Regions from separate parts of the Homo sapiens genome. Here all the other regions are linked to region 1. The links come from fine-mapping of genetic effects on gene expression. A gene starts in region 1. Each other region holds a variant in brackets. All regions are shown on one strand. Distances are between the middles of the regions.

Evidence for each region.
Region 2: its variant is fine-mapped to the expression of MCPH1-AS1 in substantia nigra (GTEx, PIP above 0.99).
Region 3: its variant is fine-mapped to the expression of MCPH1-AS1 in fibroblasts (GTEx, PIP above 0.99).
Region 4: its variant is fine-mapped to the expression of MCPH1-AS1 in whole blood (TOPMed, PIP 0.97).
Region 5: its variant is fine-mapped to the expression of MCPH1-AS1 in whole blood (INTERVAL, PIP above 0.99). The same link has a PIP of 0.9 or more in prefrontal cortex.

The regions. Positions count from the first base shown.
Region 1 is chr8:6,705,076-6,711,784 of GRCh38, forward strand. It overlaps MCPH1-AS1 (MCPH1 antisense RNA 1), which reads right to left and starts at 3,134. Exons shown (of 5, transcript NR_125386.1): 1 at 3,066-3,134. AGPAT5 (1-acylglycerol-3-phosphate O-acyltransferase 5) reads left to right here and starts at 3,567. Exons shown (of 8, transcript NM_018361.5): 1 at 3,567-3,812. The coding sequence starts at 3,594. RefSeq lists silencers at 3,321-3,660, 3,721-3,960.
Region 2 is chr8:5,714,946-5,721,654 of GRCh38, forward strand. No RefSeq gene overlaps it. Among named protein-coding and RNA genes, the nearest start is that of MCPH1-DT, 690 kb to the right of the region's middle. The variant G/A (reference allele first, on the strand shown) is at 3,751.
Region 3 is chr8:6,656,587-6,663,295 of GRCh38, forward strand. The region is part of intron 1 of MCPH1-AS1 (MCPH1 antisense RNA 1); the gene reads right to left. Among named protein-coding and RNA genes, the nearest start is that of MIR8055, 38 kb to the left of the region's middle. The variant T/C (reference allele first, on the strand shown) is at 3,636.
Region 4 is chr8:6,677,715-6,683,569 of GRCh38, forward strand. The region is part of intron 1 of MCPH1-AS1 (MCPH1 antisense RNA 1); the gene reads right to left. Among named protein-coding and RNA genes, the nearest start is that of MCPH1-AS1, 28 kb to the right of the region's middle. The variant T/TTCTG (reference allele first, on the strand shown) is at 2,415.
Region 5 is chr8:6,667,307-6,673,160 of GRCh38, forward strand. The region is part of intron 1 of MCPH1-AS1 (MCPH1 antisense RNA 1); the gene reads right to left. Among named protein-coding and RNA genes, the nearest start is that of MCPH1-AS1, 38 kb to the right of the region's middle. The variant A/G (reference allele first, on the strand shown) is at 2,956.

The DNA.
Region 1 (6,709 bases):
TTCAAATGGAGGCATGCGTATCCCTGAGAATATGGACACGTGGTCATGAGGAGTTTCAAGGGATTCAGTTTTCAGATCCCAACTCTTCTAAAAGTGATCTGTCTGAGGACTCCTGCAGTCCAGGCCCACCTGGCATTTCATAATGGCTCCTCTCCCCCCTGGCACATCCTAAATCTTACTACATTGTGCTGCCCTGCTGAGGTAGAAAGGTGTAATAAACCTTAGGACACCAACAGAGATAACTTATTTAAGAGATGCATTTCTTGTAACTTTTTTTTTTTTTTGCCTACAATTCCTTATCAGATTTTGTGAAACACATTGATTAAACTGTGTATTGCTAATAATAGTAACAGTTCAATCCAGAAGAAAATTTGCTTCTTAGGACCCTAATGATACAGTCTGATCAGTAAAAAACTTTGAAGGATAGAGCATATTCAATTATGATAGAATCCTGTGGTAGAAGTGAAATAAAAATATTTTCAGGGAGAAAAATAATCAATGCAAAATTTTCAACTGGTCAAAGGCTTAAGTATTTTTGAAATGAATGATGGGGTGGATATTAAGTCACTATAATATTTATAACTCACTGCATACATTTAAAAATTTTCTGTAATCACTTTATTTTCAAAACATCATTCATAACTCATCAGAACTTCATAACTACTTAAATTTATAATTAAAAGCCTTTTTAAATTTATCATTAAAAGCCCCCCTCTCCCCACCTTTTTTTTTCTTTGAGATGGACTCTTTCTCTTTTGCCCAGGCTGGATTGCAGTGACGCGATCATGGCTCATAGCAGCTTTGAACTCCTGGGCTCAAGCAATCCTCCCAACTCAGCCTCCTGAGTAGCTGGGGCTACAGGCATGCACAATCACACCCAGCTAATTAAAAAAATATATTTGTAGAGATGGAGGCCTCACTCTACAAAGCGCTTAAGTGATCCTTCCTCCTTGGCCTCCTGAAGTGCTGGAATTACAGGTATAGGCCACCATGCCCAGCTGAGAAAAACATTTAAATATCAGTTTAAGAATGTGTGATGGGAATACACAGCATTCTTTCAAGGGGCATCTCAACAAATTTTAAAAAGAACACTGTGGCCCACTCCAGTGCTATGCATGAGAATATGGTGATTTCTCAGCTTCAGGCGTTCAAATGTGCCATTCTCCCATGGAAAGCCCACTAAGTCCCTCAAGCTTCACCTGAAATACCATTTCACTGAGAAGTCTTCCTTGTCTCCAGACTAAATTAGATTGCCTTGATATATGCTCCCAGAGAACCAAGAATGTCCCCTTTTCATCCCACAGGTAACTCCTTGTTAAATGTTGTACAAGGAAGGCATAGACAGAATTCACCTTTCACTGTTCCACTGGTGCCCAGCAGGGTATGCAAAGGAGGAAATCAGCTGTGCTCTGAAAGAAGCACCATTCCAGTAAAGGGGAGGAAAAGGTCATCAGACTGCAAGGGCTCAACAAAAGTACAAGGTAAGGAGGCAGAGGGTGTGGGCTGATTATCAACTAAGAGGTTTGCACGGAAAAAGGGAAAAAAAAAAAAACAGAAAAACAGGGCCGGGTAGTGGCAGAAAGAGAGGGTGGATCTGTGACTGTTCGCAGGAAGAGAGGAGCGGGAGCAGGACAGACAATAACTGATAGTCAGGAGCTGGGTTTGGAGATAAAGAGGGAACAAGAGAAAGTTAAGTTCTGTGTTTTCATGGCAAACATTGCACAAAAGTTTACAACTTCGTGACTAACAGTAATCTGGGGTGATTCACAACAAATTTACACATAAACACATATTTACTGACTTTATACACAGCAATCCTAACGTGAACACAGAACCTGCTTTATCTTTTCGCACACTGTTCTAGTGTAGAGATGTCTGGTCTCAGTTAAAGAAAGCATAAGGAGCATTAGTTGTGCACACTGTCCACACCTGTGACTTTTTTCCACCAGTACTAAACCTAGTGCTTCTTACAGTACAGGACAATGACAGCCACAGAAAGAGAGAAGCTCCTTTTACTGTGTAATGCTTCCTGCTGGCCTTCAAATACTTGTTACTTGAGAGATCTCCATTCACCTGGCTTTGTCCCCAAAGGTCATCATCTACCAATGATGTTGTTATTTGATGTTAATCATGTATAAAGAAAGTAGCTACCATCCTGGCCCTGATTAGAACTTCCCACTGAAATACCGTCCTGCCTAAAGGTAGCACAGGCTCCCATTATGGTGGTGGTGGGGAGGGGGCGGGAATATATATATATATATATATATATATATATATATATATATGGTAAAGCATTCGGCATTCTTTTAAAGTACAACTATCCTTGAAAAGGGTTACATATTAAACCATTTTTACCACAGCCAAAGGGGAGGAGAAAGATCCAAAAGTCCTGTGGATCTGCTTTAACATCAATAAAACAGTTATCCACCCTTCGTAGCTTTTAGTGAAGGCTACAAAAGTATGCTTTTTATGGATTACACATGTGCACGCAACTACTTTAATTACTACAGAAAAAAACGAGGCTCCTTATTAAAAAAAAATCAGAAACAAGTCCAACAGACTCTGAGGAAATGAAGCAAGAGTGAATTCTGAAAAGGTCTAATAAACAGTATGGAAATATCCTTGTGGGATTGTTCTTCAGCTATGCATAAACATGTAATTATCATCATTACTGTGATGGGGAAAAACACGGACCCTAATTCTGAAACACCCTGGTAGCGAGAGACGGGCAGGAGGGGCTGCTGCGCACTCAGAGCGGAGGCTGAGGAGGCGGCGTCCCCTTGCAAAGGACTGGCAGTGAGCAGATGGGGACACTCGAGCTGCCCCGCGACCTGGGCCGAGCTGCCTACAACCTGGGCCCAGGTGCCTGCAAGAATTAGACCTCCGATAACGTTAACACCCACTTTCTCACTGCTCTAATTGTGTGCATCCCGGCGCCCAGGGGCTTGTGAGCAGCAGGTGCGCGTTCCAGGCAGCTCCAGCGACCCTTAAACCTGACCGCGCGCACGTCCGGCCCGAGGGAGCAGAACAAGAGGCACCCGGACCCTCCTCCGGCCAGCACCCACCTTCACCCAGTTCCGTCAGTCGCCACCACCTCCCTTCCCGCGTCCGCAGCCGGCCCAGCTGGGGAGCATGCGCAGTGGCCGGAGCCGGGTTGCCCGCGCCCCAGCAGGTAGCTGTACTGCAACTGTCGGCCCAAACCAACCAATCAAGAGACGTGTTATTGCCGCCGAGGTGGAACTATGGCAACGGGCGACCAATCAGAAGGCGCGTTGTTGCCGCGGAGCCCCCTGCCCCGGCAGGGGGATGTGGCGATGGGTGAGGGTCATGGGGTGTGAGCATCCCTGAGCCATCGATCCGGGAGGGCCGCGGGTTCCCTTGCTTTGCCGCCGGGAGCGGCGCACGCAGCCCCGCACTCGCCTACCCGGCCCCGGGCGGCGGCGCGGCCCATGCGGCTGGGGGCGGAGGCTGGGAGCGGGTGGCGGGCGCGGCGGCCCGGGCCCGGGCGGTGATTGGCCGCCTGCTGGCCGCGACTGAGGCCCGGGAGGCGGGCGGGGAGCGCAGGCGGAGCTCGCTGCCGCCGAGCTGAGAAGATGCTGCTGTCCCTGGTGCTCCACACGTACTCCATGCGCTACCTGCTGCCCAGCGTCGTGCTCCTGGGCACGGCGCCCACCTACGTGTTGGCCTGGGGGGTCTGGCGGCTGCTCTCCGCCTTCCTGCCCGCCCGCTTCTACCAAGCGCTGGACGACCGGCTCTACTGCGTCTACCAGAGCATGGTGCTCTTCTTCTTCGAGAATTACACCGGGGTCCAGGTGAGCCGCCTCCCGCTCCCGGGTCTCGGCGTCCACCCGAGCTCCCGGGGGCGCGGACCTCTCCGCTCCCCCACAGCTGGCGAGGGTCACCCGGCCGGCCCGGCGGACCCAGCACGGAGAGCACGTGCCGCCTCCCCGCCTTCCTCTCCGCATGCTTCCTGCCGTTCTGCCGAGATCGCTCTCTAGGAAGCTGTGGCTGCGTCGTCCTGAGGCTACGAGTGGGACCCGCCGCCCCTTTCCCCGCCCCTCGCCTGGGTCTGATGCTGCTTAGCAAAGTGGGTGCAGATGCACGTTTTAAATAATAGGGCACGCGTTTAGCAGTTTCTGGCCTTTGGTCCAAAGAGGTGGTCATGTTGGAACAGATCGGAGACGTCTACACTCCGAAGTGCGCTTTTACAGTGACCTCTTGAAACAGAAGTACAATTCGGTCTTGTGTTCTTTCCCCTGGACAAGTGAAAGCTGGGCGAAGAAATGAATACATTTGTTAACCGTAGAAGCCTAACTAGATACATTTCTTGCCAACTTTAACTGGGCTTGAATGTGTGGGTGATCTGTTGTCTGATTACTTTCTTTCTGTTACTGTTTCTCTGTAGAGATTGGATTCGTAGATTAAACTTGAGAAACAAACCATAAAAGTGGAAGGCCCTCTTTAACAGTAGGTATTTGAAGTGTTATAAAAAAAAAAAAAAGGTGAATTTTTCTTTTATTTCTCAGTTTGAAAGAACAGCTTTATTCTTGGTTATTCCTAATGTCCACCTAGTCCTCTTTTACTTTTCTTGGTAGGGTTAGGGTGGCATGGGGAAATGGGACGGTATCATTTTGTCTTTTTAACTTTTTTTTTTTCCACCTACAGCAGCTGTTTTTACCCTGTGGTCAGTCAGGTACTATATTTAGTTTGCAGTTGCACTGCTGATCGACCCTTGATGGCCCCAGTTGGAAGTTGTTTGGGGGGAAGGAACTAGGAGAGGCCAGGGCCTCCATTTAAACCAGTGTCTGTAAGTGTCTCCTTGGAAAGAAAAAAAGATACTGTTCCAGGTCATGGTTTCCTGGTAGTTGACGTTTAAAATGGGCCTCATTTAAAAATTTCAATAATTCAGGCTAATTTTTTCCCTTTATATGGTAACTCCACCAAGTTTGTCTAAATGTATGATTTTTATCATGATTAAGTTTTTACTTCCACATCATGTGACAACTGGCCTGGGATGGGATATAAGCTCAGAACACAAAGTCATTCACCTCTTAAAAAAATAATTCTATCTGTGGCGGGTTATGTTATTTTTGTTCAAAGAGGACACAATATGATGCAGAATACACCATTGAAGGATTTTTTGGTTTGGCAAGTTCTTATTTTTTTAAATGGCTGTAAAACCTAGCAGTGTTTCTGAAATTGCATACCTTACCTGATGTTCAGAGATCCGATTTACTTCTTGATTTCCCAGCAAGTGATTTTGAAAACATTTAATCTAATCATTCCCCCCACCGTCTGTTCAAATCAAAGGAAGTGGCATCCAGCACTAATTTTCATGCATTTATGAAAGGATGCCTGAGGACCCTTAAGTATAATTCAAAATTTTGTTTAATGTGTGTTCCTTGATGAAGTTCTTTAGGAGTCGTAGAACGAACTGATTGCCCACTGATCATCAAATGCAAGTTATGAACATTTAATAAAAATTTAAAACCAAGAGTTTCTTGTTCCTGCATTTTTATTTTTATTGTATGGAGGGGACAAATAATTATTTTCTGTTTAGTAACAGAGCAGGGTATTTTGAATTTATTAGGGTCTTTTTCTGCAATCTGGGTTTCCTGTGTACACAAAGCTACCTTTCAATATTTTTTATTGTTTCTGTTAAGATTAAATCAATAGAGGAATAAATAGCTATCTTCAAACATAAGACCCAAAGGAAAAAGATTTATAGTGATGTTCTGTCACCTTATTTTTTACCTGTGACTTTGTACCATTAACTTTGTCACTGAGATGTTTTGATTAAAATTTTTAGCTTGCTTTTCTTGTTTTGTTAGGACACTCTTTTTTTCTTGAATTGTTTTTATCAGCTTTCGTTTGCAAGGCTAGTGATGATTCTCTTGTTCTGTATAAAGTATTGTTGACTCATTTCTGAAGGGAGTTTTAGTAATTTAAGAGGTTATAAGTTTTTAAATAAAAGGTTTATTAATTTATATATATTAAAGAGGCATTTTAAAATAAAATTTTTTTTAAATGACATTTTTACACCTTTCAACTCTAGGTTTAAAAAATAAGTGGTTCACAGTAGTTCTTGCAGAAGAATATTTTCTTTTACATAGAATTTTTAAGCTGAAGAGAAGTAGTAGTAGGTCCATGAGATTTATGATCTGTGCTTGGCAGGTAAACCTGCTTCCAACAAATTTAGTTGGATTTTTCTTGGATTCTGGGTAAATACCTTTTTCTTCCCCAATTTCACTACTTTATTTTCATATGTATCTCTGAGATAGAGAAATATTTCAGTCAGTGCTGCTAAAATTGTTCCTTATAACTCGTTTATCCTTTTAGGTCCTTCCAGAATCTCTCATTGGTACTGAAACTCAAATGGGTACTTTCTTCACCATTTATTTCTTTAGAATAAGTAATAAGAATTTTATAAGCTTTTTTATATTTCACGTAATTTGAGACTATTGAAAATCCAGTTAAGTCTCTCTACTGTGTTGAGAGGCATTGATTCAAGTACCTGTGTTACTTTCCTGTGCTGCCAAAACAGATCACCTCAAACTAAGCGGCTTAAAATAATAGAACTTAAGTTCTCGTGATTCTGGAGGCCAGCACTTTGAAATCAAGGTGTAGGCTCAATTTTACTCCCTCTGGAGGCCCTAGGGGGAATCCGTTCTTGTGGGTTTCAACTTCTGGTGACTGGTGGCATTCCTTG
Region 2 (6,709 bases), 990 kb before region 1:
TGGGCAGTTCAACTTTGAAAGAGAACTATTTCCCTTTTAAAAGTTTAGACTCCATTAAACAATATGGAAACAAAATGACCAATATTTTCTAAAATGATCATTGTTATTTTTAAAACATTCTGTTTATTTCTAAATTTCAAAACTAAAAAACATGAGTGGGGGTAATATGGACTGCAGGATGATAGTTCAACAACCTGTTTTTACGATAGACTATTTAATTGTGCAAGACATGCTAATTCCTTGCTTCATAACAAAAGAATCTCATGGTAATAAATTTAATATGCTATTGAAATAAAACCAGATGTTAAAAAGCAAAACAAAATAGTTTTTACATGTACTGATAAGGGTCTGATTAAAGCCAATGTAAATAAGGTATTTTACTGTTAACAAATAATAAGATGCATTTTATTCTGACATTCACTCTGTCAGACCACAGTTTCACCTCGTCACAGGCTGATTCTGTTACCTGTTTGCATTTCTGCTGATGTGGTAAATCCAAGCTACTGAGTACCCATTATGATTGGGAAAGGTGTTGATGACTTACAGAGTTCCCTGTACTACGTATAATGGAGTCCTTTACAAATTATACCTTGCCTGAACCGAATTAGATAGGTAAAATTCTCTAAAAAGACCTTCTACACAATAAGACCACATTGTTACATGTCACAGGAATGAAATGTTCTGTTTCAAATAAAAGTGCTGGCCACAGCAAGCAGGTGCCAGGATGTGCTGCCCACAGTGGCATCATCCCAGAGGGGCAATATACCTCTGCAGAATGAGGCATCCCAGAGAGGCAATATACCCTGCAGAATGTGTTCAGGACAACTTGGACACACTACACCTGTGAAAGCAAGGGAAGGAGGGCAGGCTCTGCAAGACGGAGAAAAATATTCCCAGGATGCACCACTAGGATTAAAATCCAATGCAACTCAAAGTATCCCCATGATTCAGTTCAAGTTTCCTGAAAGTAGGTGGTTTAGAATTTGTATTATCTCAAGGAAACCTTAAAAGAGCATCATATCTAAAAAGATAAAATGAATTATCAGGTTAATAAAGTGCTTAAAACAATGCTTCCGAAACACCCTGACTACGTGGCCTATGCCCAAAACACAGAGGCCATGAGTCCCTTTTCATGTTAAAGAGAGAGAGTTGCACTCCTCACTGTGAAAGGTGTGGACGAAGATGCAGGAGAGATGTGTCATCATAAGGATGTGGTGAAAATGCCTTGGAAAGTACTCTCTGCTGCTTTTCATCAGTACACGAGGCATGCGTCATCTTAGAATGTCCTAAATGCATAGTGTTATTTTTTTTAAGTCAATATTTCTGAGTGCTTATTTTGTGCTAGGAGTTGTAGTTAGTATTTTACAGGTAAAATCTCAATCCAGATAAGAATTTTGCAGAGTACGTACTATAATTCAGTTTTCACAGATGAGAAGAAATGAGTCCCAGAATAGTTAACAAGTAACTGGACAAATGTAAACAGCTTGTAAATGGAGGAGCTAGGAATGTACAAAAGTGGCGTGCATCATCAAGCCATGAGTTCACTATTAGATCCCGAAGGCGGGACCATCTCATGCCATCAGGAACCGGATATTGCCCTTTCGTATCTTAGAAGGCTTGCTAACAAGATGGTTCAGCTTTCATGAATTCTGCATCCGAGATTGCTGTATCATTGGGAAAAAGCAGACTTGGCATTTCTGTAAAGAGAAGGTTGATTTGAAGAGGATGATCAGTAATCCCTGGGAGCTCACACATTTTCCTGTATGGACAAATGCTGGATTGGCTTGTTTTATTTGGTGGCCTGGTAACCTATGGTAATAGGAATAGGTCAAAGCATTAAGTATTTACTAGGGCCGGAATAGTACAGCAGACTTACCTCAGAAGCAATATACTGCATGGTTGAAATACTTAATAAATATTTAAACGCTGGGTTCTACGAAACATATATGATATATTAATAAACATATGTAATGTTTAGTTTTAGAATCTAAATTTCTTACCACTTGCATACCACCACAGTTTTTTAATAAATTTCCTTCTCTGTTATCTGAGAAAATTAGGACCTGCAAGGGCAGGATCACAAGGGGCCAGTTTTTACTTCAGTACATTTCAGAGGTGAATGCACACACACCCACCCCACATACACATTTTCAGAAAAACAAATCTAACAAAACTAGATGTCTAATGAAAAAGATACTGTAAAAATTAGTTATATTCACCAAACAGTGAGTCTGATGCCTAAGAAGAAATGCATGTGTTAGAGTTTTTAGGTGCAGAAACCATGACCCACCCTAGCTAGATTAAGCAGAAGAGGAGTATATTAAAGGATATTAGAAATCTGCGGGAGGGTGAGAGAATCAGGCTTGGAGGCCACACAGACAGGAGCAAAAGCAATGGAGAGGTAGTGCGGTACCCCTGACCATGTGCCTCTGCTGCTCAACAGTAATGGCAGCATTCAACTTCAAGCTCTGAAATCTGTTGCTGGCAGCTCTGCCGCTATTGTTTTGAAAAGCTGCGATCCCTCACTAATTTGCTCGCTCACCAGAGGAGATCCTGTGTGGCATCTCCTGTCTCATGCTACTCTATTCCAAGTAAAAATCTCACGTGGGAGCAGTTACATTCGGCGCCACCTCACATCACTGTGTCTGAGCTCCAAATGAGTTTCTCACTTCCTCTTTGGCAAAGCAGGATGTATAAAGTGGGATATTTCCCAGAGAAATCCTACCGGAGTCCTGCCACTATAACACATCACTTTAGAAAGGCAATATATGCATGATGCCTTCCAAAAGGTGCTCCAAGGCCAGTCCTCATGGTCAGTCGGCCAACACCTTTAAGCAGCTATTTTTCAAAGATGTTTTGTCGCCCATGAAATTAGAGCCATTGGGAATAGGGAGGAATACTTCTCTTACTTTCCACAATTAGTGACACAGAATTGATATCTCTACCTTCAACACCCAAATTAATAGCTTCATAAAATAGCATATTATTTTTTTCTGTTTAAAATAGAAGTATCTAGGCTTCTGTAAATGGCTGTGAAATGAAATGGTTATGCAAAAATTCTGCACGGGTAAAATAATTTAAAAATGGTTTTTAAGGAGTTCCTGTTTAGAAACATGAGAAGTGACCCAAAGCAGAGGAAGTTGCATATAGATACAGATATATAGATATAGATACATGAATGAATGAATGAGGAGAAAGTCTCTGGAATATAAAAGGACCACGCTGGCTGAGAGAAGTGAAGGAGGACTGAGACACAAATGCTCAATGTAAGCACTGCTCCAGTAATCACTGAGAGCTGGAATATTATGCTTATAAACTGGAGACCTCACAGGCTTTGAAACCCCTATAGGAAATAGGAACAAAATCTTGAAAGATCTACAGTCCATAATATTGATACATTTTCTGCTTTTTAAATAAACTCTACTTCCAATTCATGCACACCTTGTGCAGCAGGCTTGAAGAGTTAGAGGACAGACTCTAAGGCTCTTGGAGACACAGAGGTGAACTTCCTCTGCCCACGTTCTTAATTAACTGCCAAATTATATAAGGCTGAAATTTTTCAGAGTGCCTTGCTATATTCATTTTCATATTGTTATGAAGAAATCCCCAAGACTGGTAATATATAAGGAAAAAGAGGCTTAATGGACTCACAAATCCACATGGCTAGGGAGGCCTCACAGTCATGGCAAGGTGAAGGAGGAGCAAAGGCATGTCTTACATGGCAGCAGGCAAGAAAACTTGTGCTGTGGA[G/A]CAGCCTGTATAAAACCATCAGATCTCAGGAGACTTGTTTATTATCACAAGAACAGCATGGGAAAAACCTGCCCCCATGATTCAGTTGATTCAATTACCTCCCACTGTGTCCCTCCCATGACACGTGGACACGTGGAGATTATGGGTGCTAAAATTCAAAATGAAATTTTGGTGGGGGCACAGCCAAAACATATCACTTGCTGAAAAAAATCAAAAAGAACTGTGGAACTGCACATAAAGAGGAAAACTACTAGCAGCTGTGTATGGTAGGGAAGAAAACATTGCAGTATCATTCCAGACAGGTAAACAACCCACTAGAATAACAATAACAAAAATGTCAGAAGAAAACATCAGATTATTATTGACAGAGTAATGTATTATTGACGATGTGCACTGCTTGATTTCAACCACAAGTTACTAGATATTCAGGATGGAAAATGTGGCCCACATTTAGGAAAAGAAATCCATCAATGGAAACTGAGAAGGTTGTCATGTAGGACTAAGCAAATGAAAACTTCAACAATTATATACATCCACATATATATATGTTTTATGAATTAAAAAAAGCTCTAAAATGGTAGTATTAATAAGCACAAGGTTCAACAGACAAATGGAGATGAAAACTATAATAACTGAAATAGAAATTCAATAGATGAGACCAGTAGTAATTAGAGATGAGAGGACATAATTACTGAAGTTGAAAGTACATTAATAGAAATTACTCAACACAAAAAGAAAAACAAGAGAACACATGTGTGGGTTTGTGTGTGCTGCAGTTGTTTCATATCTCAGAAGCTCATGGATGCATGGGATAATACTAAAAATCTCACATACATACTTGAAATTCCAGAAGGAGATAAGATTAAGTGGAAATTATCAAAAGAGAATCTTGAAGGAGTAATAGCTAAAAACTTTCTGAAGAGTATTGAAAATACTTATTTAAAACTCAAGAAATTCAAAATAATCTAACCAACAAATATACACAAAAATTATTCCGAGTTGTATCAAATTCACACACAAAATCTCCAAAGCATTCAGAGAAAAATCAAGTGTTGTGTACAAGGAAACAGTGGTAAGCATGGTGGTTGAGATTTCACCAGAAGTTAGAAAGTCAATGACACATTAAAGTGCTGATATGAAAAGACAAAAACACCTCTCAGAAAGTTTCTACCCAGTGAAATTATATCTCTAATTGAATCCCTTTTTATATGGAGGAAAACTCATACATTTTTTTCTTAAGCCCATCTGCAATATAGTAAGGACTAGAGAAAAATTTCTAAGCTGAAGAGAGATGCTTTCCGAAGGAAATAGAAAGAACATTGGAAATGTTAAAAAATTACTCATTAGATAACTCTCTCTTTCTTCTCTTTCTTTGTATATGTATATACATTTATGTAGAATCACACATAAATATGCTACATATTATATAGTATATATAATATATATACTTACAGTAAATATATACACACAGGTACCCGTGTATATATCCCATATATGTATATATAAAATACGTATACACATTATTTTACCTTAATTTCTTTGAAAATCGCATTAATGTTTAAAACAAAAAAGGATAACACTGTAATAATGGCATTATAAATAATACACATATGCTATATATGACAATAGTGTTAAGATGGGAGAAAATAAAAATATACCATTGCAAATTGTCTATAGTTTACCTGCTGTAATTCTATATCATTTCAAAGATATTGAGAGATATATAAATCTTGGTAACCTGTACAACCACAAAACAATGCAAATATATAATTTCAAAGATAAATAATTAAAGTGCAAATAAGGCAAGATGGGAGGAACATAAAAAAACAAGGTAAAAGGAATGTCTGACAGCAAAATGGAAAAGCCTACATAAAACTATATTGATCCTGATATTGAATAAAAAGTAGCTAAACACTGATCGAAAGTCAGGATTTTCAGACTAAATAAAAAAGCAGAGCCAGTCTTATGCAAAAGAGATAAACTTTACACACAAATAGATTGATAGTAAAACGAGAAGCAAATAAAGGCTATAGTTACCATATGACTATCTAACAATATAGGCATCAAGAAAAGGAGGGTTGTTAGAGGAAAAACAAGTAAAAGTCTCTAGTAATCAGCTAATACATCAAGAAGATCAGATAAGTAAAAATGTGCATGTGTGTAATAACATATATTTAAATTATTTATAAACCTGGGAAATTTAAAAGATCCAGGTAGTATGAATAAAATATATTTGGCGTGAATCTAAAAATTCAAGAAAGCTAATCTAGATAAATGATTCTGGTTTAACTGGAACAATTTGAAATGAATATAGAAACAAGATTCATCTACCCTTATACATATACCAAATATACGTATACCAAAATTAAGTCCAAGTCAATTATAGGGTGTATTAGTTGCCTGTGGTTACCGTAACAAATTACCACTAACTGAGTGGCTTAAAACAACATTAAGTTATTATCTGACATTTCAAGAGGCCAGGAGTCACAGATTTTGTCAGGAATTTTGCCTCCACCTGGAAGCCTTTTGGGAAACCATCTCATGTCTCTCATGGCTTCCAGTAGCCGCCAGCAATCCCAGAGCTCCTTCGCTTGTAGATGAACCACTCCAATTTCAGCCTCCAACGTCCCATTGACTTTTCCATATCTCCATGTACCCTTTTCTATCTCTTATGAGGATGCTCTGATCAGACTTAGGACAAACCCTAATCCAATAGGATCCCACATTGATCTTTACCTAAATTATATCTGCAAACACTATTTCCAAAGAAGATTACAATCTGAAGTTCCAGGTGTACGTGAAATTTGGAAAACACTAAATATCACATTTAAGCCTGTGAAACTTGTAGAAAAAAGGAGATAAGACAAAATCGTTTTTACTCTGGGGTGGGCAACTTTTTCCTAGACATAAAGTAACAGCCATAAAAGGAAAAAATTAAAAAATGAAATACTAATAATCG
Region 3 (6,709 bases), 48 kb before region 1:
CATGCAGTGGATATAATCACCTAAACCTAAACACCCTTTTGCACAACAGACCTACAGATAGTGATGGAAATGTCACAAGCTTCCTTCCAAAAGCACTGCAGAACTCCTAATAAAGAATGGAAATCCTCAGGCGGTGGGGAGTCAAGAGAGGCAGCCGGGATGCCGAGTCCAGGTCCTGGGGTCCGGCCGCTGCCAGGTAGGGCAGAGCAGGCTCTTGGGGAGCAGAGGCTTGGGTTTTCATGTCGAACAGGATCAGCAGATGAGGAAGTGGACCTGTGAAAAGTCGCTGGCATTGCAGCTGAGATCCCCTAAAGAAAAGCAAACTCCTGGAAGGACACGCTGAGAGGAAGAGGACTAGGAAAAACTGCACAAGAGGCCAAAGAAGCCAGACCGGCCCAGAGCTCCAATCAGGGAGAGCAAAAAAGAGACTCAACAGGTTTAAGTTCATATACGGTCATACAGGCCATGTTTTCTGAACTAAGCATAATGTAGGAAATTAATTGTATGAAGAAATCCAAACACTAGGCTGGGCACAGTGGCTCACGTCTGTAATCCAAGCACTTTGGGAGGCCAAGGTGGGCAGATCACTTGAAGCCAAGAGTTCGAGACCAGCCTGGCCTCCATGGTAAAAGCCCATCTCTACTAAAAATACAAAAAAAAATAGCAGGCATGGTGGCGCACACCTGTAATCCGGCCACTTAGGAGGCTGAGACACGAGAATCAGCTTGAACCAGGAGGCGGAGGTTGCAGTGAGCCCAGATCGTACCATTGCACTCCAGCCTGGGTGACAGAGTGAGACTCTGTCTCAAAGAAGTCCAAAAACTGTATTTGTAGGTTGAAAACATAAATAATTGATACATCAAAAGAAATCATAATGGAAATGAAAAAATATTTAGAACTGAAATAAAACCTTCTGGGACATACCTAATGCAATAGTTAGAGGGGACTATGCAGCCTTAATTGCTTATATTAGTAGTAAAGGGGGAAGAAACCTAAAACTTTGTTAGCTAAATATTGAATGAAATAAACTGGGGAGGGCCAGGCGCGGTGGCTCATGCCTGTAATCCCAGCACTTTGGGAGGCCGAGGTGGGCGGACCACGAGGTGAGATCGAGACTATCCTGGCTAACACAGTGAAACTCCGTCTCTACTAAAAATACAAAAAATTAGCCAGGCGTGGTGGCACACGCCTGTGGTCCCAGCTACTTGGGAGGCTGAGGCAGGAGAATCGCTTGAACCTGGGAGGCAGAGGTTGCAGTGAGCCGAGATCTCACCACTGCACTCCAGCCTGGGCAACAGAGCAAGCACTGTCTCAAAAAAAAGAAATAAAGAAATTGGGGAAATAGCTACATAGTAAATCAAAGAAAGTGATAGGAAGAAAATAATAGCAGAAAGTAACAAAATCAATATAAAGAAAAAAGAATCAATTAATCCGAAGATGATTCTTTGAGAAGACTAATAAAATAGACAAATTTCCGAAAGTTTGACCAAGGGTTGGAAGAAAAGAAGGAACAAAACAATGTTAGGCATGAAAGGGAAACGTAACTACTCACTACACTTACATACGCCTTTAAGTTTTCAAATCTTGAAGAATTTTGAAAGCATATGACAATAATAAACAATGGAAAGTAAAAGAAAATCTAAAAGGATGTTACATTAGAGGTTATATTAGAAATAATTAGATATAATTCAGCAAAAACAGACTTAAATCAAAAATTGCAATGAAATAGCGTGAAGTCTGGGAGGGAATGCAAAATTTTGATGCCCTCTCCCCGTGGAATCTGAACACATCACCCTCCCAGGGCCAGGACATCAATCAGTGCGTTCATGAACTCCTCTAAAGAACTTCCACCAAGGCTGTGCTGCAGAGTTTTTTATTGATGTGTCATTATGTGGGCATGAGATTGATTAAATTTATTAAGTTGGTTGATTGACCTCAATCTCTGGTCCTCTCCTCCATCCCCATGGTCATGATCAACCGAAGTCCCAACTTTCTAACCAAGTGCTTGGTCCTTCTGGTGACCAGCCCCCATCCTGAAGCCACCTAGGGGCCACCGGGGGTCACCTCATTAGCATCACAAAGACACTCCTAGTGCTCAGGAAATTACAAGGGTTTCTGAAGCTCTGTGCCAGGAACTAGGGACCAAGAACATGTATCTATTAGCCTCATTTAACAGATGTCCATTTTTGTTACACCACACATGGCAAGCCTGGTAAGGAGAGCCTTCCCCAAGAAGGTATGTAAGCAACTAGGAACTGGGTGGGATGTTTAATCCTCTTTCATGGAAGAGGAAAAATAATTGGAAATAATAATACATGGCATGACGAGAAAAAACTTAAAATCCCATGTTGAGGCCGGGTGCAGTGGCTCACACCTATAATCCTAGCACTTTGGGAGGCTGGTGGTGGGCAGGTTGCCTGAGCTCAGGAGTTCAAGACCAGCCTGGGCAACATAGTGAAACCCCGTCTCTACTAAAAATACAAAAAATGTGCTGGGTGTGGTGGCGTGCACCTGTAGTCCCAGCTACTTGGGAGGCTGAGGCAGTAGAATGACTTGAACCTGGGAGGCAGAGTTTGCCTCCAAAAAAAAAAAAATCCTATGTTGAACATGTTATGTTTGAGAGGTCTGAGTGACATCCGAATTAAGATGTGAAGTAGAGTGGTGTGTGTGTGTGTGTGTGTGTGTGTAGTCCGGACACTGCATGAGGACAAATCAGTAGGTGTGTGTGTCTTTTACGTCTCAGGAATTGATAAGCTCACCTGGAAGGAGAAAGCAACAGAGCCCCAAGCTTTAGCCATAGGGAACTCCAAACATTAGATCTGGTAAATGTAGAGAAGCTGTGTCTGGCAAAAGAAATACTTCAGCTGAGTTAAATTTAAAGGACCTTCATTGGGTAATGAACGGCAAATCAGGCAGCCCCCAGAATCACAGCGAATTTAGAGAGACCCCAGCACAGCCGAAGAAGATTTATAGACCAAACAAAGGGAGGTAATGTACAGAAATCAGGGGTAATGTACAGAAACAACTGGGTTGGTTACAGCTCAGCATTTGCCTTATTTAAACACAGTTTGAACACTCAGCAGTGTATAAATGGTTGAAGTATGGCTGCTGGGATTAGCCGAGACTCAGCTATTGTTACAGGTGCATACTCCTAAGTTAGGTTCTCAATCTTGTCTACCTATTAAGTTAGATTGCAGTTCGTCCACAAGGACTCGAATATAAAAGTACTGGAGTCCTTCTCTGGCCATATTTAGTTTGCTTTAACACTACCCAAGATAGAGAGTTCAAAGTCACAAAATCTAAGAAGAAAACATATTTCAAGAAGTCACTGGTTAGTTAACTGTTGAAAGCTAGCTGAGAACAATAGATCTGAGTAGAACCTCTTTAGGGGATCACATTGCTGAGAAGTAAAGCTCTTTGTCAACCAAAAATCAAGATCCCAAACATCTCTCATCTCTGCTCCCTTCCCTCCAATGTGATTGTTCCTCCCCTTCTTTGCTTCTCTTTGTTCTTTAAATTTATTTTTCTATATTCAACTCAATTCTTTTTCCTTCTCTTCCACCTCCTATGTTCCCTTCCTTTCTGGAGGCCCAAATGATTTCATTAAAATCAAGGTGTCAGCAGAGATTCCTTAC[T/C]TTCTGGAGGCGCTGGGTGGGAATGCGTCTCTTGTCTCTTCTGGGATCTAAAGGTACCGCCTTCCTTGGCTCATGGCCCCTTCCTCCATCTTCAAAGCCAGCAACGGCAGGGGAGTCGTTCTCATCTTACTTCACTCTGACACTCACTCTTCTGCCCTCTCTTCCCCAATTAGGAACCCTTGTGATTACATTGATTACCTTGGGCTCCCCAAAATAACCCAGGTGGACTTGTTTTAAAGTCAGCTGATTAGTACCTTTTCCACCTACCACCTGAATCCCCCCGGCCATGGAAGGAAACATATTGACAGATTTTCAGATTAGAACATCTTTGAGGAGACCTTACTCTGCTGCCAACACTGGCCCCTGATTGCCTCACACTAAATCCAGGACGGATGCACTGACCATGGGTTCTCACTGGCACCCAGCCTGAAACCTCAGATAAGGCATTTGTCTTCTCAGAGCCAGGGTTTCTTCAACTGGCAATTTTCACAATAATCCCTGTCTGGTGCCTGAGAGCACAGGATGATGGCCAGGGAGTCGACGCCCTTCTGAAAGGGGGAAGAAGCAAAGGCATCTCGGTTTGCAGTATTCAGTGAGTTATGCTGACTCAAAGACACGAATCAGACACTGACTGGTAGGAACCCCCAGCACAGATTAAGAAGTGCATAGCCAACAGGCCTGACTCCAAACAATTCAAACAACAAGGAAAGAATAGAGAACTTATCATTATTGTGTCTGTTTGACAAATACTTAATTGACCATAATGTAAGGCTGGAATTTGCCTATTTTAAAGTTACCTGTGGTTGTAATTAAACTGTTTTGTTCAGTGTTCTCAATTCTAATTCTACTACTTTATTTAAAACTATAAATTTTTGTGTCAGGAAGACAATATCTACTTTTATCCCTCTAATATTTAACCCCTTAATGGAGACAGTAATTAGAATTATTGACCTGAAACTACACAAGATCATACAAACATTCTTCAGGCTAAACTATTATTTTGTTTGGTATGAGTTCCCAGTCTAAGCGTTAATATTTTCCCAAAGCCTCAGGACCTTGCAGGGACCAAACTCCACCTAGAACTCTAAGATACTGGCGGCAGCTGTCAATTTCATTAATCTGGTTTCAATTTTTTTAATATTTGGATTACAGCTTATCTATGGGAACTCATAGTTGTTCCATCTTTAATATTCCAGATAGACGATTTACTGAAAAAGCTAATTCAGTATTGTCTCCCGTGAGCCAGCCAATGAAACCTCAGCCAACGCTGAGGAGGGAGCACTCGAGGGGAGGAACGCCATCCTGGGCTCTCTAGGGCTGTTGTCTGTCAACAGCGAGATGAGAACAACGGGCAACAGCAGCAGCTCCGTCGGCCCACGGCCGCCCCAGGGGCCCTGGGAGGGCGGGAAGGGAGACACTGCCAGACCTCAGAGCTTGGCACCAAGAGCCAGTTATCAGCCAGATAATGTACTCAACCAATGGCGAGAAACCCGACCATGAACTTATTGGGAACTGGTCACAGAAAAGAGAAGGACTCTTTGTCCTGAGTGTGTGAGGCTGTGATGGTAGGAGCCGCAGGGCTGTGACTCACACGATGCCACAAGGTTCCTTCCAAAAACAACTGGGGATGCTGTGTGGGGAAAGGGCTGATGGCACAGTAGGAGGTAACGGGCTCAAAACTGACCTCCTTTTTAGGGGTGAGGAAAAGACTGTCACCTCATCTTGTGGCTTCAGAGCCCAGAAGAGATTGTGGAGCAGCGGTTAGAGACTTACGGAGGAATTCTGATATTTTTAACTCTTCGGCACTTTGCTTTTCTTGAGCAATTCCCACACCACCCCTTTTTAAAGATTTATTAGATTCAGGGGCTACTTTATAATATCCTTGGAGCCCAAATTAGACTTTAAGCACATAACATATCTGAGCTTGAGGAGTTTAACTTCTTCAACAAAGGAGCAAAGAGATTTGGTGAAATGACCCCCATGGTCCCTAATGCTGATGGACCCACCGAAGTTAGCCTGTCACCAGAAGCAAAGGGATACTATTTTTAAGATATGAGGATCTTTTCCACATTTCTGTTCAAAGCAGTAACTTTGCAGCTTCATCTATTGAAGGCCTCATCTCCACCTGCTTTTCCTACCCTGGATTCACAGGGCTTGTGGTGCCCTCTCCCTGCCTCCACTCACCTTCCAACAAGTGCTGGAGTTTGATTCACACCAAACAGAAATAGCCAAAATTTGTAAGAACTCTATTGGGCAGCTCTTCTGTATCAATGACTGTACAGGCTCCAAGGGCCAGAAATAATGAAGATACAGCACCTATCTCAGCGAGCTGACAGCCTTGAAGGGGGATGAGGCTGGAAAACAAATGACAACACAGTGTGATAAGTTCACTGCAGACCAGGGAGAGCGACAACTTTGAGAAAGGGTGATTGCTTTTAAACGGAAAGGAAAAGAGCTTGGGAAATACTTCCAGAAGAAACTGACATCTAACTTAGGTGAGTTTTCTTTTTTTTTAGGTGGGGTCTCACTGCGTTGCACAGGCTGCAGTGCAGTGGCTATTCAGAGGCATGGTCATAGCTCACTGCAGCCCTGAATTCCTGCACTCAAGCGATCCTCCTCCCTCAGCCTCCTGAGTGGCTGCAACTACAGGTGCATGCCACCATGCCTGACTCTCTAACATAGGTTTCAAAGGAAGCATAGGAGTTCCGAGTGGAAAAGAGACCAAGGGAGAGGCCCGTGCCAGTCCCGAAGGTGAGGGGAGGTCTGAGGGCCTCAGGATTGCTGGAACTTCCAGTGGAAGGGCACGTTGAGGGGACGCAAGTGAGATATAAGCGTTGGGTAGTTAAGAAAGGCTATTGAAATTTTCCAGACAAGAAATGTTAAGGCGCAGAACACAGTGCTCACAGAGAGGGAAAGGAGGAGGTGGATTAGAAATGAAATTTTGGAAATGAAATTATTTGCTGCCTGAGTGGCTACGCAGGAGGAGCAGGGGGACAGAGTCAATCTGGATGAGTCTTGGACTCAGGCATAAAGTGTCAGCAGTCTTGGGAGGATCCACATCCTCACGGGAACCA
Region 4 (5,855 bases), 28 kb before region 1:
GGAGATGGAGACTAGTGAAGCCAAGGACAGAAGATCACTGGCTGAATCACTTGTTTTCTTGTCATGACTCCAATTCAGTGGATTTCAATCCTGGCTGCAGATCAGAGTCACCTGGGCAGGTTTTGTTTTTCCCCAAAATACTGTGCCTGGGCTCACAGTCCCAGAAATTCAGTAGGACCCTCCCCATCCCCCATCCATGTGTACTTTTAGAAGAGGCATCATTCTGGTGCCTTTTACACCTGACACATGAAACACTAGTGACCATAAACATGCTTTCATTTAGGCAACGTGTGAATACCCAGAGTATACAGGAAGGAGCGGGGAATGCGGCCTGGATGGCATGGGGTGGACTCTAGGAAGCAATGACACCTTTCAGAGACAACCCTCACTACTCGAGGGTTTCCTGGGTGTTTCTGAAGCTGCAACTGGGATCAGGCCTTAGTTCATGTGCCTCAAGTACAATGTAGTCCTTCCCCCACCTCTCTCCCCATCTAAAAAATATCACCAAATCTACTCAGAGACACAAGTCCACCTGTAGGAGAAGAGGTGGAGGCACATATTCCCAATCCTGGGCTAACAAGGCCTAGGGGTCACTGTAGTGGGTCGGGAGCTGTGAATGTTGCAGGGAGGATTTAACCGGAATAACAAGGGGTGTTGTGTCCCTAGGGCTCTGTCCCTCTTTCCCCATCCAAAGTTCTGTCATGGAAATGATGAATGAAGGCATGGGACCTTTGCTGTCAAGCCGTCTTAGCTGGGGACAGTGACTCCCAGGGCCACCATCAGTGAGCATGCCTGGGACCCAGGGGAAGGGAAGCTGCTCTAGGACCTCGGCTCTGAGGACACACAGATCCTGCTCCCAGTGGTCCCAAGCCTCCAGTTGTGATCCCTATCTGTTGACAATCTGGACTCAGCCCCACTGTTACAAAGAACCATCCCCTGGGCAGGCACGGTGATTCATGCCTATAATCCCAGTGCTGTGGGAGGCCAAGGTGGATGGATCTTTTCAGGCCCGGAGTTCAAGACAAGCCTGGGCAACATAATGAGACCCTATCTTGAAAAAGAGAGAGAGAGAGAAAGTGAAAGAGAACAAAGGAAGGAAGGGACGGAGGGAGGAAGAAAGACAGAAAGAAAGACAGATAGGAGGGAGGGAGAGAGGGAAGGAAGGAAGGAAGGAGGGAGGGAGGGAGGGAGAGAGGGAAGGAAGGAAGGAAGGAGGGAGGGAGGGAGGAAGGAAGGAAGGAAGGAAGGAAGGAAGGAAGGAAGGAAAGAAGGTTGGTTTAAAAAGAAAAAGAAAACACAACCATCCTCTCCAACCAGCCCCACTGAAGTGGATCCTGCCCATCCAAACAGGATGAGGCAAAGTCCAGCAGACTTGAGCCGATAAGGTTCAAGGACAAGGCACAGGACGTAGAGTCATATTCCACAACATCCTCTCCAAAGCCTCTGGGCTAAAAGTTTTACATCTTGATATCATCCAACGATGTAAAACACCACTTCAACTTCCATGAAGGCCAAGTTGACTCTGTGAGCTGCTATTTCTGCAAATTTCTCAAGTGGTTTCCTCGGGCCCTTTAAGGGAGCCAACAGCTTCTGCATGAGACCAGTCATCTCTTCATTAACCAGTTTAGATTCCCTTAAAGCCACTCTTAGGTTTTCTTTTGGGTTGTGTGCTTGTAGATATCATCTAGAGGTTTGGGAAACTGGTTCTAAGTGGGACCATATAGTCCTCAGAGTTCGGTCCAGTCGAGAGAAGGGGCATAAGGGGAGGGAGTGAAGCCATTTAGAGTTAGAGAGGCCTTAGAGAGTACTTGGCCCAGTCTTTCATTTCAGAACAGAGGAAACAGAGACTTAAAGAGGTTAAGTGTTTGTTCAGAATCACTTCAAATGTTGATAGCAAAAACAGGGCGAGGACTTCAGGAGCCTAACTGTCCACCCCAAGTTCCTTCTGGTTAATGCGGCACATGTGGTTTCCAAGGAAATCAGTCAACTCTTCAGCAGGAGGAGGCGAGGCTGCAGAGCAGAGGTTACTTACGGTGGTGCAGGCAGACACACCATCGTGGCCACAGGAAACGAGTGCTTCAAATGGGGCTGCTACAGGAACAAATAGCAAGGACACTGGCGTCAGAGGTGGCGTAGGACAGCATGTCACAAAGTGACAAATGGATGGCCCACGCAGCCCGCGTTTTGGGAGCTGAGAAGAAGCAATCACTGGGCTTAGGTGGATGGAAGTTATCAGGTAAGTTTCGTCCTCCAGTTTGCAGGCATGAATGTGTCATGCTCACTTAGAGGTTTACGCTGCATTTTTACGTGATACTACCCAGGCAGCAGAATGGAATTTAATAAAAAATGAGAATCGTAGTTGAAAAGGCTTCAGAGTATTTTGCATTTACAATTGCATTTCAGAAGTCTGATTT[T/TTCTG]TCTAACCTGATTGACACAAAAGCATATTGAGTTCTGTGAGTTCTATTTACAGATTTGCATTAATGATGATTAATAATGTCTGCTATTTAAGTCAGATTTTGTGTAAGGAGTATGCAAAGAATGAGCTGTTGAGGCAGCAACCTGATTTTGTTGTTTTTTTCACCACTGCATTTATCCATTCTTTAATTTTTTTTTTAATTATTTGAGACAAGGTCTCACTCTGTTGCACAGGCTGGAGTGCAGTGACACGATCACAATTCACTGCAGTCTCAACCTCCCAGGCTTGAGCAATCCGCCTGCCTCAGCCTCCAGAGTAGCTGGAACTACAGGCATGCACCACTATACCCACCTAATTTTTTTTTATTTTCTTTTAGAGATGAGGTCTCATTATGTTGTCCAGGATGACATTTATCCATTCTTAATCATCTCTTCATTTTTATACAAAGCCAAAGTTCACATTATTACTGGGGCAAAATTTCCCCCCAGTTTTCCCCCTAGTTAGCAATCAGTCCTTCCCTTCCTTCCTTCCTTCCCTCCCGTCCCTCCCTTCCTTCCTTCTTTCCCCCCAGTTAGAAGTCCTTCCTTTCTTCCCTTCCCTCCCTCCCTCCCGTCCCTCCCTTCCCTCCTTCTTTCCCCCCAGTTAGAAGTCCTTCCTTCCTACCCTTCCCTCCCTCCCTTCCTTCCCTCCCTCCCTTCCTTCCTTCTTTCCCCCCAGTTAGAAGTCCTTCCTTCCTTCCTTCCTCTCCCTCCTTCTCTCTTTCTTCCTTTCTTTCACTCCTCTCCCCTCCCCTCCCCTTTCCTGTCCTTTTTTCTTTTTTTCTCTTTCCTTTTCTTTCTGAGATGGAGTCTTGCTGTGTCGCCTAGGCTGGAGTGCAGTGGCGTGATCTCAGCTCACTGCAACCCCCGCCTCCCAGGTTCCAACGATTCTCCTGCCTCAGCCTCTGGAGTACCTGGGATTGCAGGCACGTGCCACCATGCCCAGCTTATTTTTGTATTATTAGTAGAGACGGGGTTTCACCATGTTGGCCAGGCTGGTCTTGAACTCCTGACCTCAGGTGATCCACCTGCCTCAGCCTCCCAAAGTGCTGGGATTACAGGCGTGAGTCACCGCGCCCAGCAGAAGAATTTCATTTTAACATGCAAACACCTCAACAAAGCCAACTGAGCCTACTTCTAAAAAGCCTCCAGACATATCCCTTCCTCTCCAGTCTTGCTGGCCACTGACCTCTCCCAAATTCTCATATGCACTTAACATTCATTTTACAGCAACAACCTCCTAACTGGTCTTTTTGCCTCCAGAAAAAAAAAAAAAAAACATATTCAGCAACTAAAACAATTAAATTCCTAAAGGCCAATAGATTATATATTCTACACTGCATAGGTGTAAATTCTGTGCCATATATTCAAGGCCAGAGCAGAGTTTGAGGTTATAGCCTGGCAGAAATTTCAGAAATGGGTATTCCCCCAAGGAAGGTTTAAATTCTGCGTTTGAAGTCCAGTAATTTTACCTGGCCTTCTTTTTATTCAGATGACCAACCAGCACTGGAGATTTACTAGCCCGTGTGCAAATTTTTGTCAATCCCACTTGTCATTAGAAATCCCACATGCTACAGAGAGAATGCGATTTGCAGATAACTCGAAAACATAAGAAACCCAAACACAAATCACTTAATCGGAGAAAACATTACTCTCTTAAATTTAAACAGTTTTTTTTAAAAGCCAGATGTACTTATTGTCATTTCCAGAATTACTCTTATAAGTATCTGGTTATCATAACCACAGAAAGACAGTTTATTAGTTTTAACTGCTGGATAAAAGCATGTAGCATTTTCAAGATTTCTGGTTTCACCCTTTTAACCCAAAGAGTAACTATAAATAGATGGCAAAGTCTGGGATTTCCACAGCTAAGTGCTGCTATAAATAGTTTTAAACATTTTCCCACTTCATGCTTTCAAAAAGAACATTCTCCACTTCCTTTCTTGGATAACCTCTGGGAATAAAGTGAATCACATTCAGAATTTTATTAAGGGAGTTTAACAAAACTATTTTAATGAACCTTTTAGCAACTCTAAACATATCTCAGACGCTGAAAAAACTGAGAATAAAATGATTTAACAAATGTGTTAATTTAAATAGATATTTAAATTGAAATAGATATTTTTGACAAATGCATTTAGAAATACATTTCTAACCACCGAAGTGGTGACTAAACGAAAGAAACATATTTCTTTCAACATTCCTTCCATGATAACATCTAGAAAAAGGGGTGTGAATTCATGCCTGTTGTCAGGTATCCAGGCTGACTTCTTTCTCAGGGAATATTCATAAGACAGAGACACAAAGAGATACAAAGATCCTCAGTTCTTTGTGAAATCCCTGCCATGGATCGCTTTCCCAAGGGACATGCCTGTGGCCGTCAAAGCAAAGCGAGCACTGTGCAGGACCGTCCCATCTCTCCACAGCAGAAAGATTCCTAATGCCTGCCTTCTAGCAACCTCTGCTGGTAGTTATTTCTGACTGGGAAGAAAGTAGAATTAGCCAGTCTTCCCCATGGCAGGAAAATTAAGCAAAGAAAAAACAGCCACGAAAACAGGTCATATCAGTGAAACACATGTTTCTGTTTTATATTTTAATGAAAAGGGACAATGGAAGGATTATAAATGATTTTTAAAATATTCGTGTTTTCTAAAAAAAAATAGCTATTTTTGAGCAGTTTTAGGTTTAAATATTGCACAAAAGGTATAGAGCGTTCTCATATATCCTGTCACCCTCAATTTTCCCTATTTTTAATATCTTGCAATAGTGTAGTACATTTGTTACAATTGATGAGCTAATATTATTATTATTAATGAAACTCCACAGTTTACATTAGGGCTCACTCTTATGTTGTACATCCTATGGGTTTTGACAAATGTATAATGATAGGTATCCGCCATTATAATATCAACAGGAATGATAGTTTCACTGCCCTAGAAATTCCCTGTGCTCCATCCATGCACCATCTTCACCACAACCCCTGGCAACCACTGATCCTTTTACTGTCTCCATAGTATTCCAGAATGTCACATATCTGGAATTCTACAGTAGCAGCCTTTTTAGATTGTCTTCCTTTATTCAGTAAAATGCATTTAAGTGTTTATCCATGTCTATACATAGCTTGATAGCTCATTGATTTTTAGCACTGAATAATGCCCATTGTCTGGATGCACCGGAGTTTCTTTACCTGTCACCTCTACTCAAGGATATCTTGGTTGTTTCCAAGTTTTGGCAATTATGAATAAGGCTACTATAAAGATCTGTGTGCAGGTTTTTAGGTTGACATGAGTTTTCAGCCCTTTGGGGTAAATGCCAAGGAGTATTATTTCTGGATCGTATGGTGAGAGTAGGTTTAGTTTTGTAAGAAACTGCCAAGCTGTCTTCCAAAGCGTCTGTGCCATTTT
Region 5 (5,854 bases), 38 kb before region 1:
AGTAATGCAAATATATACAAATAAATAATACAAATATCATATGTTATTATATGCTATTACAATATACAATATTAAAATAACATATAATAATTAACATACTCAAGGAAAGAATATATGAAACAAGAATTTTATATCTAATTAATAAAAGACAAACTTTTATCAACATGCCAGAACTCAGGGACTATTATTGCTGAGTCTTTCCTGAGAAATCTAGTCGACATCAAGCTTCAGACAATCAAAATGGAGAGAGAGATAAGTGACTTATGCAATGGTAGTAAGTAAATAGGTGGTACGCCTAGGCAACATAGGAAGATCTCATGGAAAGAAGGAAGAAGGGAGGAAGGGAGGGAGGAAGGGAGGGAGGGAGGGAGGGAGGGAAAGAGAGAGAGAAAGAAAGAAAAAAAGAAAGAGAAAGAAAGAAAAAGAAAGAAAGAAGAGAGAGAAGGAAGGAAAGGAAAGGAGAGGAGAGATAAACTCCCAAATTTTTAAATGGTCAAAGATAAAAAACATTTTATGAAAACATAATCTGCTAATTAGAGGCTGCAGTGTGCTATGATGGCACCACTGTGCTACAGCCTTGGCAACAGAGCAAGACCCTGTCTCTGAAAAAAATTTTAAAAAATAACACATTAGACACAGCTCAAAAGAGAATTTGTAAACTGGAAATTATATCCAAAGACATTGCTCAGGATGCGTAACAGAAAGACAAATTAAAAATACGCAAGAGAAGTTAAGAAAATGAAAAATAAAGTCCAACATATATTCATTTTAAGTTTCAGAATTAAATAGTAGAGTAACAGCAAGACAGCAGTATTTAAAGAATATTTAATAGACTAAGAAATAATGGCCAAGAATTTTTCAGAGTTCAGGAAGCAATATAATATATCAAGCAAGAGAAATAAATTAAATTCATACATGATGAAATACATAGATGAAATTCATAAATAGATTAAATTCATACATAGATAAAATAGTGAAAAAACAGATTATCTACAAAAGAATGTCAATAAGACTGACAGGAGTCTTTTTAATAACAATGGAACATGGAAGAAAGTGAAATACCTTCAATGTGCTAGAAAATAATTATAGATTTAAAAATCACAAATCCAGTGAAACTACCAAAAATGAGGTAGAATAAAGGCACTTTGAGATAAACAGAAATTGAGACTGTTTGCCACCAAACTTAAAGGCACATTTAAATGATGTACTTCAGGAAGAATGAGACGCTCCCAGAAAGAAAGTCTGAAATGCAATGACGTTTGGCAGCTAAACAAAATGGTAAACATATGACTAATCTAAATACATATTAAGCAGATACTGATAATTACACAATCTGTGAGGTTAAAAACAGAGATTGATTCAAAATATTGTATCCCAGTAGCACACAAGCTAGAAGCAGTGATCAACGGAGGAAAACCATTCTAAGACAAGGTCTCCAACCCCTGGGCCACCAACGGATATGTTAGGAACTGGGCTGCACAGCAAGAGTTAGGAGCCGTGGGCAGGCAAATGAGCGAAACTTCATCTGTATTTACAGCTACTCCCCACTGCTCACATTACCACCTGAGCTCCACCTCCCATCAGATCAGCGGTGGCATTAGATTCTCATAGGAGTGTGAACCCTATTGTGAACTGTGCATGCAAGGGATCTAGGTTGCATGCTCCTTATGAGAATCTAATGCCTGCTGATCTGTCACTGTCTCCCATCACCCCCAGATAGGACCATCCAGTTGCAGGAAAACAAGCTCAGGACACCCACTGATTCTATATGATGGTGAGTTGTATAATTATTTCATTATATATTACAATGTAATAATAATAGAAATGAAGTGCCCAATAAATGTAATGTGCTGGAATCATCCTGAAACCATCCCCCTGCACCCTGGTCCATGGAAAAACTGGTCCCTGGCGCCAAAAAGGCTGGGGACCACTGTCCTAAAATCTTTGTGTTATTCAGAAGGATGGTAAATAGTCCTTCACTGTAGACTGTTAAGTATATATAAACAATTTCCAAGATAATCATTAAAAGAAAAGAAGTATAATACACATCTCCCAAAGCTGTAAAGAAAAATAAATGGAATACAAAAGCAAATGAAAAATTGTAGCTGACACTGTCCTTTGAGCAAACAGAGGTTTAGAATTAGTCAACCAATAAGCCTCTTGAGATTTTCCATGAGAGCTTAGGATGGTATTTGACTGTTTAGAAGAGGCACGCGAGTGGCTGTCTTTTTGATAGACAAAGAGGACAATTAAACGGAAGGAACAGTTCCTTAGGCATTCCTAGTTGGAGCTGTAATTTATGAACATTTGATACATCCCCGATTATTCAAATATTTTGTATTAATTTTTAAATCTGCACCCAATTTAAAAGTTCCATGGGTAGCTTCAGCAGGGAAAATGGACTTTTGATGGTTACATCCTTCTCTCCACCACCCCATCTCCTGCCCCCGAATCCTCCACTGCCCCCCTCGCTGTCTGAATGATGCTTATGGGAGCACCTGACGGCCAGGCAGGGCAGTGCTCCTGTGTCCAGGACGGGGGCTGCTAGTGGAGACTGCTTAGACATTTTAACAGTGAGAAAAGATATTTTATGTTTGGAATTTAACAGAGATTTTGGTTGATAGCATGAGGGCTCCCTTTAGCCCTCCTGATCCTCTAATTCAACGAGAAAATTTCCCTCACCATTTCTCCCCAGTCACAGTTTCTTTGTATTTTTCCAAAATTTTAACTGAGTTATCGGTTGTCTTCTTCAGTTTTACATTGTAATTTTGGCAGATAATTTCTTTGGCAGATAATCCAGGAGATAATAACTCCTGGACCAGCGGATTTTACCAAGAGGTTCTCATTTCTTTGGTTCTAGAGAACAGCCGCAAAATGTCAAATCCTCTAGTCTTTCTGACCAGCTGGATGCCATAGTTGTTGACAGACTGCTGCCTAGAAGTAAAAGAATTCAAA[A/G]GAAATCACTCATTTCTGCATCTCAACAGTTACAAAACACCAACAGCCCCCAAATTACAGGGTGTTATATAAGTCAATGAACCAAGCATTTGGGATTCTACAGAAACACTGTCTCAGCGGGTACTGGCTTCCTGGCCTGACCATTATATAACTATTATCCATAGCATAATTGAGGTGCTGTATATTTGAAATAAATGATAAAAAAATGCTGTAGATTATCCGTTTTTCTTAGCCATTTTTTCCAATAAGACATAGCCCACAGGGCCCTGGATAATTAACCTAGGCCTCCTCCATTTTTTTGCCAGGCCATTTAGACTTTCTCCTAAACTGACTACTGGCCTGAGGGAGGGTGTGGAGATGGGAGGAGCTGGTCCCATTGGGTGGACACTGTGTCGAGTTGGGAGGAGGGTCTGTGGCCTCCCCACAAGAAAGGCACCTTCTCTCTGCAGCTCCACCCACACCCTTTAGAGGGAGCAAGAAAAGGAAGCAGTCAGGCAATAACTGAACCCCACTGGCCTGCAGGGCAGCCAGTCAGTGGGCAGACATAGGGGCCATAGTGGGCCAGGGCCCCCCATTCTTAGGGGCAGACATAGGGGCCATAGTTGGCTGGGCAGGGGGTCGGGGGTGGAGGGTGGTGCAGGGTGGAGGGAGAAAAGGCAATTCCCACAGGATGACCTGCAGATCCTCCAAGCATCTGAAGATTGGGAGGGACCGAACATTTCACCCAGGTCAATCATTCTTGCCTCCCCACCCAGAGTTCAAACTTCTGATAAAATATTCAGTTTTAGCTCAAATACTTCCAATGTCCTGGCTGCTCCCATTCGGGGGACCACTGGGATGGCAGAGCTTGAGAGGATTAAGACTTGGGGGATTAAGAAATGGAGCCAGGTTGCAGTGGCCCTAGGAAGAAAAGAGAGCAGAGGGAGTGGATGTGGGAGGAATCAGGGCTTCTGCAGTAGAAAAGGAAGTGGATTAGGAAAGTGTTCCAGAATATGGGTGTTCCCAATGCCCGAGGAACAATGGGTAGGTAGAGACACAGGCCTCAGGATCCCAGGTCGGCAGTGTGGCTGCCAGGATGCCCTCGTGTTTTCCAGCCTGGAATATGGGTAGCCCAAGGCCTCTTTCTAGTTTCCTCCACACCCCTGCAGAGGCACAGTGAGGTTCATGTGGCCAAGCGCTCCAAGAAGCAGTGCAGCTATGACTTTACAGGGGAGGTGATGCCAGCAAAGGCATGACACACTCCATGGGGGCAAAGGTTGCCAGGACAACCTCTGCAAGGACAACCTCTCCCACAGCCAGGGTCTGAAGGGGATAAAAGAAGCTCTCTGAGGGCTAAGAGTGATGTGCCTGGGAAAAGAAGTGTGGTGTATGCTAGGCCAGTGCCCCCGAACCCCCAGCACTGGGGCTACTGTGGTACATGGGAAGTCCACCCGCCAACTTGGCTGCAAGATGCCCAACCCTTTTCAGCTCCCCCAACCACTGAGCCACTGCCTCAGAAAGAGCTTCAGGTCTTTTGAGTGCACCCAGGCGAGTGGGGAAGACAAAGGGTAAATGAGTCCCTTCTTCCAATGAGACCCAGAAAAGTAGCAAGGGGTCTGTTAGTCCTAGAATGGCAGAGGTGGGATGGGATCTGAGGTCCTGCATCCTCAGCTCTCTATCAGTGTTTGTCAGAGATACAGGGACATCCCCTGTGCCTGCAACTCAATGAGGCACCATATAAATAATACAAAGGGCAGGGAGAGGTTGAAGATGCAAGAAAACACTTAAGTTCTTCTCTTTCTCTCCTCTCTTCATTGGAAGAAATATAAGATTTGGATCACAAAGACTGGAACAGACTTAAAGGGAGAAAGGACAGGACAGATTAAGTAGGGGTGAAATTTTAAGGCAATATGAGAATAAAAAAGAAACGTAAACATTCAGATAAGTAATAGGCAGCTCAGACAAGAGTGAAAAAGTGAAGAGGGGAAAATATTTGAAGAAGTAGTTCAGATCAGTTTCCCAGAATGAAAAGACTGACCTCAGATTTAAAGGACTCGTAGAGCACCACAAAAGAGAATAAGGAAAACCTCACCTACACGTACTAAACTGAAATGTAAGAGCATGAAAAAAACAGAGAAATTCTAAAAGCCCACAGAAAGAAAGAAAGAAAGAGGCTATATGAAAGAACAAGAATCAGCTTGATATCATCTTTGTTAACAGCAACAATGGATGCAAGATAACTGGAATCTTATTTTCGACATACTGATGGAAAAGAACTTAAAAATGTAGAATTTTATATCCAGCCAAACTATCATTCAAATAAGATGAGATGATGAATTTCCTCAGGCATACAAGTGCTTTCAAGATTTTGTAGAAAAGGTCACATTGAAAATAGTTTTGAAAAACTAACTAAAAAGTGAAGGAAATTCAAGAGATATTCCAAGAAATTCTTGAAGGAAAAATGACTTTATACCTTAGTAGAGTTGTTATCTTTACAAATTGATAAGACTAACAAGAAAAAATACATCCTTACAACTAAGAATTAAAAGTTAGTTAATGCCAATATTAATGGGTTGGCAGAAGATGGCAAGAACAAAAGATATGAGAGCATAGTAAAGTTCTTGTCTTATTAGAAGATATTTGTAGATATCAAACTGGTTTAAAAGAAGCTCAAACCTAAGACCTGTAATTAGAAAACTTCTAGAAGAAAACAGGGGAAACACTCCAGGATGTTGGTCTAGGCAAAGAGTTTATGGTTAAGACCTCAAAAGCATAAGCAACAAAATCAAAAATAGACAAATGGGACTATATTAAACTAAAAAGCTTAGGTACTTCAAAGAAAACAACAAAGTGAAGAGACAACCTGTCTCTGATCATTTGAATATTGGCCAAACTTCACCTGATGAGGGGCTAACACCCA